2 linked regions of the Homo sapiens genome follow. The protein of the gene in region 1 interacts with the protein of each later gene in a biochemical or structural test. Each region holds a gene or a part of one and is shown in the gene's direction. Other genes may lie near its edges. The genes, in order: ZCCHC14 and TENT4B.

Region 1 (3,600 bases):
TGGCGTGCACGCGAGCCCGCGTCCCGTCGGGTTTTTGCTCTGCTCTGTGGACGGCTGCCTCGTCTTCCTGCCTTTAGTTGAGCGTTTCATTCCTACTGGCCTGGTTTTCATTTCAGAGAACTCTTGGGCTCTGACAGTTGTTTTTTCATAGCATCCTGTTCTCGGATATGCCTTCTTCTCTTAGCTTAGTAAGAATATTGATGAAAATTTTTTAGTTTTCTTAGAGTCCACGCTTTCCCTTGGCTGCTGTGTTCTCCTTGCTGGCTTTGCCTGTCTCTGTGCTGGGCCTTGGCTCTCCTCAGGGGTCTCCAAAGGTCTGGGGGATCCTGGGCTGCCTGTCCCCTTAGGGGTGTGGCTGAGCCCTGCCCCCAGAGGTGCCTGGCTGAGCCTTTTCTTGTGCAGAATGAGGCCGCATGGCTCCAGTGGCTCTGGAGGGGGAGGCTGTGTGGAAAAACACTGATGTTCAGAGCCAGTCCACAGTGAGCCGGAGGAACTAGACCCTGCGTGTGAGGACATCCTGAGCATGCACGGGCTGTGTGCACATTGGGCTTTGGGGTGTGATGAAGATGCATTACAATTCGTCCAGATAAGGCTAAGTAGCTTTTCAGGGACGTGATAGAAGATGCTGTGCCAGAATCTAATTGGCAACACTTTTTCTTGGTGAAATGTAAAGTAATGGGGTAGCTGGTTGTGGATGCTTGTGAGTATGGTTGGACACGTGTCCCCATAGTACGGGTCAGGCAGGTATGACAAGAGGATGCTCTTCCCGCCCCCATGCCCCTCTAACGGCCGGTTCCCCTTCTGGCTCTCTGGGGCAAGTCGGCAGGTGAGGTAGAGGGCTTGGCTGGGTCTGGATCGTGGCTGCTGCAGCTTAGCCATCAGCCAGCATCACCTGCAGAGCGAGCGACATGGGCTGGTCTCCGCCTGACTGTGCGGTCTCTGTTTCCAGTGCTCACTTTCTGATAGCCTTAGGGAGGAATGTGAGCTGCACCTGCAAGTCAGAGAAAAATGTATCCGAACACAAAGTAGAAGAGTCCTGTGTAATTAAAGTGCATAACTGTTGGAAAAGCAGATTGTCTGTTTCAACATAAGATGATCTGTCCATACCATGTTTAATCGCTGGGGTGGTGGATTTCACATCTTCCCTGGGTTAGGGCGCAGTAGGAAAGATACAGCCTAGAGGCAGGTGTGAGAGCTGTGCAGAGGAGACGTTTTCTATGACACGCTTTACCTTGAAAGAGACACGCTGTCAGCAGCGCGGGGGACAGCCATCTTCACGGCAGGGGTTTGTGTCTGTTGGTGGTGGTGTTCTTGGAGTTCTGTGTGGGGAGCAGCTTAGGAACCTCTCCCCAAGATTTTTGGTGTTGAGAGATTTTAATATTTAAGGCAGAGAAGGAGCTCAAACATTTTCTTTTCTTTTCTTTTCTTTCTTTCTTTCTTTTTTTTTTTTGATAGAGTTTCGCTCTTGTTGCCCAGGCTGGAGTGCAATGGCGCGATCTCGGCTCACTGCAGCCTCCCCCTCCCGGGTTCAAGCAGTTCTCCCACCTCAGTCTCCCAAGTAGCTAGGATTACAGGCGCCTGCCACCATGCCCGGCCAATTTTGTATTTTTAGTAGAGACGGGGTTTCTCCACGTTGGTCAGGCTGGTCTTGAACTCCTGACCTCAGGTGATCCGCCCACCTCAGCCTCCCAAAGTGCTGGGATTACAGGTGTGAGCCACTGCGCCCGGCCTCAAGCATTTTCATTTTAGGTGTGGAAGATTCTGGGTGGCAAGGTGCACGCCTTGCAGCCGTTAGTTCCAGGGACGCTGCTGCTTGCCTTGATGAATTCTGGTAGGCACTGGGGTTCTGGTGAAGAAGAGGTGGCCCTTTCCTCGACTGGCCTGTGTATTATGAGGGCGTGATGAAACAGACCCAGGAGTGACGCTACGTGATGTGACGAGACTGGCCTCAGTTTCAGCAGGCAGGAGGGTGGACACCTCGGGGACTAGACTGCAGGCCCATGGATGTGGGTGTGGGTGTGGGTGAGGGAGCAGAGGTGGTTTGGGTGCCTGTGAGCTCTCTTTGCTCTAAATCAGTGTTAATACAGCGTTTTCTTTTGCATAATGTATTTGGTCATTTTATTTGCCGACTTGAAATCCCCCAGCTTCTTGTGGACTTGAGTGCAATTTGCATTTGGTGCTTGTCCCTTCCTGACCTGGCCTCCTCCCTGTCATTTCAGGCCATCCCCTCTGTCCATCTCAATCCTGTAGCTAACTTCTTATTTGCCTTTCAGAAGTCAACCCAAGCTCTTCTCCATGCAGAAACTCCCTCTAATGTGCAAAAAGTACGCTCTCCTTCCCCCTCAGTCAGCTTTGTTTAGCACCTCATGTGACGAGCATTGTGATAGCCAGGGGAGAGCTGAGCAAAAAGACACCGCCCCTTCCCCCCTGGAGCTTAGCGTGCATGTGGGGAGATGGACCTCCGTGGAGCCATGCAGTGACACCGCCCGCTGCTGCATGCTGGGAAGGAAAGCTGATGCTCACAAGGGCTGGGCACACCAGACGTTGCAGAATCTCCTCCAGAAAGCCCTTTTCACTGCTCTTCCCCAGCAGTGATCACTGCTGCCCTAGTGATCACTGCCCTGTCCTGTTGCTATCAATGGACTCACACTGTCCCCACAGCTCTGCAGTGTCCTGAGAGCAGGGCCTGGGCTCACTGTGTGCCCACAGCACCTGGGCGGGCGCACCACGGGCCCTTACCGGTGGTCGAAGGGCTGCTCTCTGGGAATGTGTCGCTCTTGCATCTGAGGCACATAGGCTCACTTAAGAAGAGGAGGTCCCCTGAGGAAGTTGAACAGGGCACACACAAGCAATTGTCAGGGATTTTCTAGAACTTACAGGAGGCAGCTGTAGACCCCACTCTGGAGTAATTTGGTGATATCTGAATAATTGCATAAAACAAGTTAGACTTTAGAGGGCCTGGAGCTATGTGACTCTTCTTTCTGTAACAAGTCAAGGGATGCTTAGGTGCTTCCCACAGCAGGTGCACGGCCCACTGGGCTCAGCTGCCGACTGAACGTGTGCCCCAGTCGTACCAGGACACGTGCTGGGAACCAAGTATGTGGTGTCTGTTTCTAAGGTTTGTTTGTTTGTTTGTTTTTAAGGTCTTGTGGTCTGATTCTTCAATAACATCAGTAACCAAATCTTCCTCTGAAGTGACGGAATTTATTTCAAAGGTAAGGTAATCAAGGGCTCTTATAAAAATTAAAAGAATCACATTCCCCAGTGGCTGATGATACCACGGAGTAATTTCAGAGGCCACTCCCTTCAGCTAGCGAGTGAGCGTGCGCAGGGCGGGGCCTCCTGCCCAGCCACAGTGGAGTCCCAGGCCCGCTGCTGACATGAGCGTTGCTGCGAGCACAGGTCCGTGACCCCGCGGATGCCTCCTTCACTTGTTGAGACTGAGATGAGGCTGAGAGATGCGCCGGGCATGAGCGACTGATGAGGACATTTGGTTTCTTTTGTTACTTTTCAGTCCCCCAGGTTTCCTTGGCAAAGGCTGGGGGAGAGAGGCATGCTCAGGTGGCTGAGTGGGTAGAGACTTCACCTAGTTCTACCTTT
Region 2 (4,106 bases), about 37 Mb from region 1:
ACTTCTTTGAAATGTGGATCTTCTGGCAGCCAGGGAACTTGAACTTGGCCCTGAGCAGGGATTCAATCACATGCTCCTTATTCTGCAGCTTGTTGCAGATGGACATGATAACTTGGCCAATGTGAACCCTGGCCACAGTGCCCTGGAGCTTTTCAAAGGCACCTCGAATATCTGCCTGGAGCCTACATTGGCGTAGTGCAAGGTCAAAGACATGAACATACATCTGAAAGGCCTGTCTCCATGGTCCCTTAGAGCAGCCCATACAAGAAACAGGCTGCATAAACTACCAAGGAAGCTGTTGTTTGCAGCTGAAGGGTCTTTGTGTGTTTTCCGTATTTCTGGTCGTGCTATTTATTCTCTTACCAAAAAAAAAAAAAAAAGTAAGGTCAGGCGTGGTGGCTCACCCCCTTGTAATCCCAGCAGTTTTGGAGTCTGAGGTAGGAGGATCGCTTAAGTCCAGGAGTTCCAGACCAGCCTGGGCAGCGCAGAGCAACTTCGTCTCTATGCCATGTTGACGCGTGCCTATAGTCCTAGCTACTCGGAGGCTGGGGCAAGAGGATCGCTTGAACCCAAGAGGCCGAGCCTGCAGTGAGCTGTGAATGAGTCACTGAACTCCAGATGACAGAGCAAGAGTTAGTCTCGAAAGAAAGAAAAAGGTAGAGCGACACTTAGTTCTTTGATAGTTTTCCACTATTTGTCATAAAAACTTTCCAGGATATTGAGCTCCCAAAATGGAAGGCCAATATCAGGCATCAGGGACTTGTTCTGGACGTTGGACCAACCTTAAAGGGCCCACATAGAAGCTGTTCACTTACTTTCTTTTAGTCTCTTGATTTAAAATACTTAACATTCCCCTTTCCTTGGCTTTTTAACCACTGAGATTTGAAAGACATGCAAATAACGACCTAGTGGACAATCTTTGCTGATGCTAAATCTTCATTTTAGGATTAAAAGGTTTTGGGTTTTCTTAAAATTTAATGCTGAACTCAGAAGAGCTTTCTAAGGCTGTTGGTGCACCTTAGGGCAGGAGAGCGTCTTTGCTACGCCGCGCAGGAGTGTGTCTGCTTCTCTGTGCATCTACACGTGTTTGCGTGTCCCTGTAAAGTGGGTTGAGTGTGCGGCTGCGGCTTTCCGCCCTTGGCTCACACTCTCAGTCTTAGTGGTCTCCCCCAGGGCTATGCATGGGGTACAGGTTTCTGTGGCCTCAGGCCGGGGTGAGGGGTCCCCCACCCCGGCCAGGGCGCAGCAGGGCGGGGCACACGTAGCCGTGCAGGGTCTCGCGCAGCCCGCGTCAGGACCCCGGGGCACACGCTCGGGCAGGGGGCGTGTCCCCACGCCACCAGAAAAAGTGTTATAGGCTGTTTTTTTTTTTTTTTTTTTTTTTAAAAAGAAAGTGTTTTAGAAAGCAGGCAGAAGCCAAGACGTCAGGAAGGGTTGCGAGGGCCCGGGATCCGGCGGCCACAGGGATGGGAGGGGCGAGGAGCGAGGGGCGGAGTGGCACCTCCCACAACGCGCTCCCTGCGGGGCGGGCGGCAACCTCCATGCGGCCTCGTCCACGCTCAGCACCGGGGAAGCCGAGGCGGAGAAGCCGCGCGCGCCTCAGAAGCTCCCGGACGCCCAGGTACGTGGGAGCACTCCACAGATGGCGCAAGTACGGTTGGGCCAGGCGGTTGCGGCCCCGTCGCGCCGCGGCCTCTGTGACGCACGGCGAGGCCTCCCGGGCTGCTGCGCGGCGCAGCGGGGGCGGGGCGAGCGCGTGAGGGCGGGGCGGTGGGGGGGGGGGGCGGAGCGAGAGGGGCGGAGCCGGCAGAGGCCCCGCCCCGGGGCCGGAGGAGCGAGGACGCTACGGAGCAGGCGCGTCTCGCTGCCGCCGCTGCCGCCGCCGCCGCTCGCTCTTCTGTGGAGCCGCCGCCGCCGCCGCCGCCATTTGCACGGGGACCCCAGTGACAGGGGCTCGGCGGAGGGGCGGAGGGGCGGAGGGAGGGGGGGAGGGCCCGCGGAGCCCCCGAGGGCGGGAGCGACGCCGCCGGCGCCGGCCGGGCTCCCTGCGCGACCGCGCCGCCCGCGGCGGGCCCCGAGCAGCAGCAGCAGCAGCAGCGGCAGCAGCGGCAGCAGCAGCAGCAGCCGAGGCCGGGCGTGCGCCTGAGGCGGCGGCGGCGGCGGCCCTGCGGGCGGCCGGGAGGGGCGGGGGCAGCGGCCGCCGCCGTTTGATGGATCCGAGGATCGCCTGGTTTCAGCCAGAGCAGCTCGGACCGTCCAACAGTCTGTGGATGCAGATCTGGGAGACGACCCAGGGGCTGAGGAACCTCTACTTCAACCACCACTGTCACAGCAGCGGCGGCGCGAGCGGCGGCGGCGGCAGCAGCAGCAGCAGCAGCACGGCCACCGGCGGGAGCGGCAGCAGCACCGGCAGCCCCGGCGGCGCGGCCTCGGCCCCGGCCCCGGCCCCGGCCGGCATGTATCGCTCCGGGGAGCGCCTGCTGGGCAGCCACGCGCTGCCCGCGGAGCAGCGGGACTTCCTGCCCCTAGAGACGACCAACAACAACAACAACCACCACCAGCCCGGGGCCTGGGCCCGCCGGGCGGGCTCCTCGGCGTCCTCGCCTCCCTCGGCGTCCTCGTCCCCGCACCCTTCGGCCGCCGTCCCCGCCGCCGATCCAGCCGATTCGGCCTCGGGCAGCAGCAACAAGAGGAAGCGCGACAACAAGGCCAGCACGTATGGACTCAACTACAGCCTGCTGCAGCCCAGCGGAGGGCGGGCCGCGGGGGGCGGCCGAGCAGACGGCGGCGGGGTCGTGTACAGCGGGACCCCGTGGAAACGGAGGAACTACAACCAGGGAGTCGTGGGGTGAGTGCTGGCTCTGCGGCCCGATGGCCTGGCCGGTGCGAATGCGCAGCCGGGCACACGCCCACAGAGGGGGGTTGTGAGGGTCTAGGAGCGGCCACCCCCACGGCCTGCCTTCGCTGCTGTTGCACGGGGGTGCTGCTGGCCATCCCCAACCCCCCAGTCGTTCACACCTTTCCCCAAGCCTCCTTAGCCGTCCACACCCTCCGTCTCCTGTCCTCCCTTAGTCGTCCACACCTTCCTCCCCTCCCTCTTAACCGTCCACACCTTCCCCAGGCCCCCCCCTTTATCCATTCACTCTCCTCCCATCCCCCTTAGTTAAACACATCTACCCTTGACCACCACCCCGCCTCCAGCCCTCCACACCTTTTTCCCCATCATCACAACTCAAGATGAGACCGCTTAGCACGGGCCTATCATTCATTCCCTGAGAACATTGGTGTGTGAGTGTTTTTTGATGGTGCAGGACCCGGAGGTGCTTTCCTTGCCAAGAATAGAAACATCCAGAATGCTCCTCCCCATCCCCCAATCCCAGACAGCAATTATGTCAGCCCTGTAAGGCATTGCCTGCTCTTGACCCTTTGGCCCATCTTTTTATTTTTAAAAAATTCCCATGTCACAGATGCCCTGTCTATGCAGAGGGTGGCGTGGGATGGGTGACCACTAAGTTTAGGCTGGTGAAGGTGGTGAGCCCTTCTGAGGCCCTGATAGAACTTTCCAGGAGTTCATGGTCCGCGGCTCCAGCTTCTCACTGTAAAGTTGTCATCCTGGCAGAGGCAGCCAATGCTTTTCATTCTAGGGGGTAGAGATTTATGCTAATGAGTGAATATTGCACCACTAGTGACTTTCTGTTTAAAGTTCAGCTCTTAGAAAATGGAATCTTACCTGACCCCTAGTGAATTATGTACATAAGCAGGGAATGTTTCCAACTAGATCTCCCTTCAGAAGAGTCCCTGTGCTGGAATAGGTCACTGAATCTTATTTGTTTTGTAAAACAAAGCTTTTGGGTCTCGTGGGTGTGTGTGTGTGTGTGTGTGTGTGTGTGTGTGTGTGTGTAGCTTGAGTATGGAGAACCGGCTTTCAAATTGCTTTTCATTTTTCAGGTTGTGTTTTACATTGAGGGCTTTAGCATGCAAATGAAATTACCAATTAGTAATCCCATGTGAACCTTTTCCTGGATTTATTCATTCAGATCTGCCCTGCTTTGGCTGAGAGAGAGAGTTCTGTGTACCTTTTTGAAGGTCTGGATAAAATGAGTTGG

What was found.
Region 2: the proteins of ZCCHC14 (region 1) and TENT4B form a complex in vitro, tested with the Homo sapiens proteins (one study listed by BioGRID).

The regions. Positions count from the first base shown.
Region 1 is NC_000016.10:87,423,425-87,427,024, reverse strand, and holds part of ZCCHC14 (zinc finger CCHC domain-containing protein 14), read left to right. Parts: intron 1-3,143; coding exon 3,144-3,215; intron 3,216-3,600.
Region 2 is NC_000016.10:50,151,412-50,155,517, forward strand, and holds the start of TENT4B (terminal nucleotidyltransferase 4B), read left to right. Parts: upstream 1-1,894; 5' UTR 1,895-2,210; coding exon 2,211-2,848; intron 2,849-4,106. UniProt on the Homo sapiens protein: Terminal nucleotidyltransferase that catalyzes preferentially the transfer of ATP and GTP on RNA 3' poly(A) tail creating a heterogeneous 3' poly(A) tail leading to mRNAs stabilization by protecting mRNAs from active deadenylation.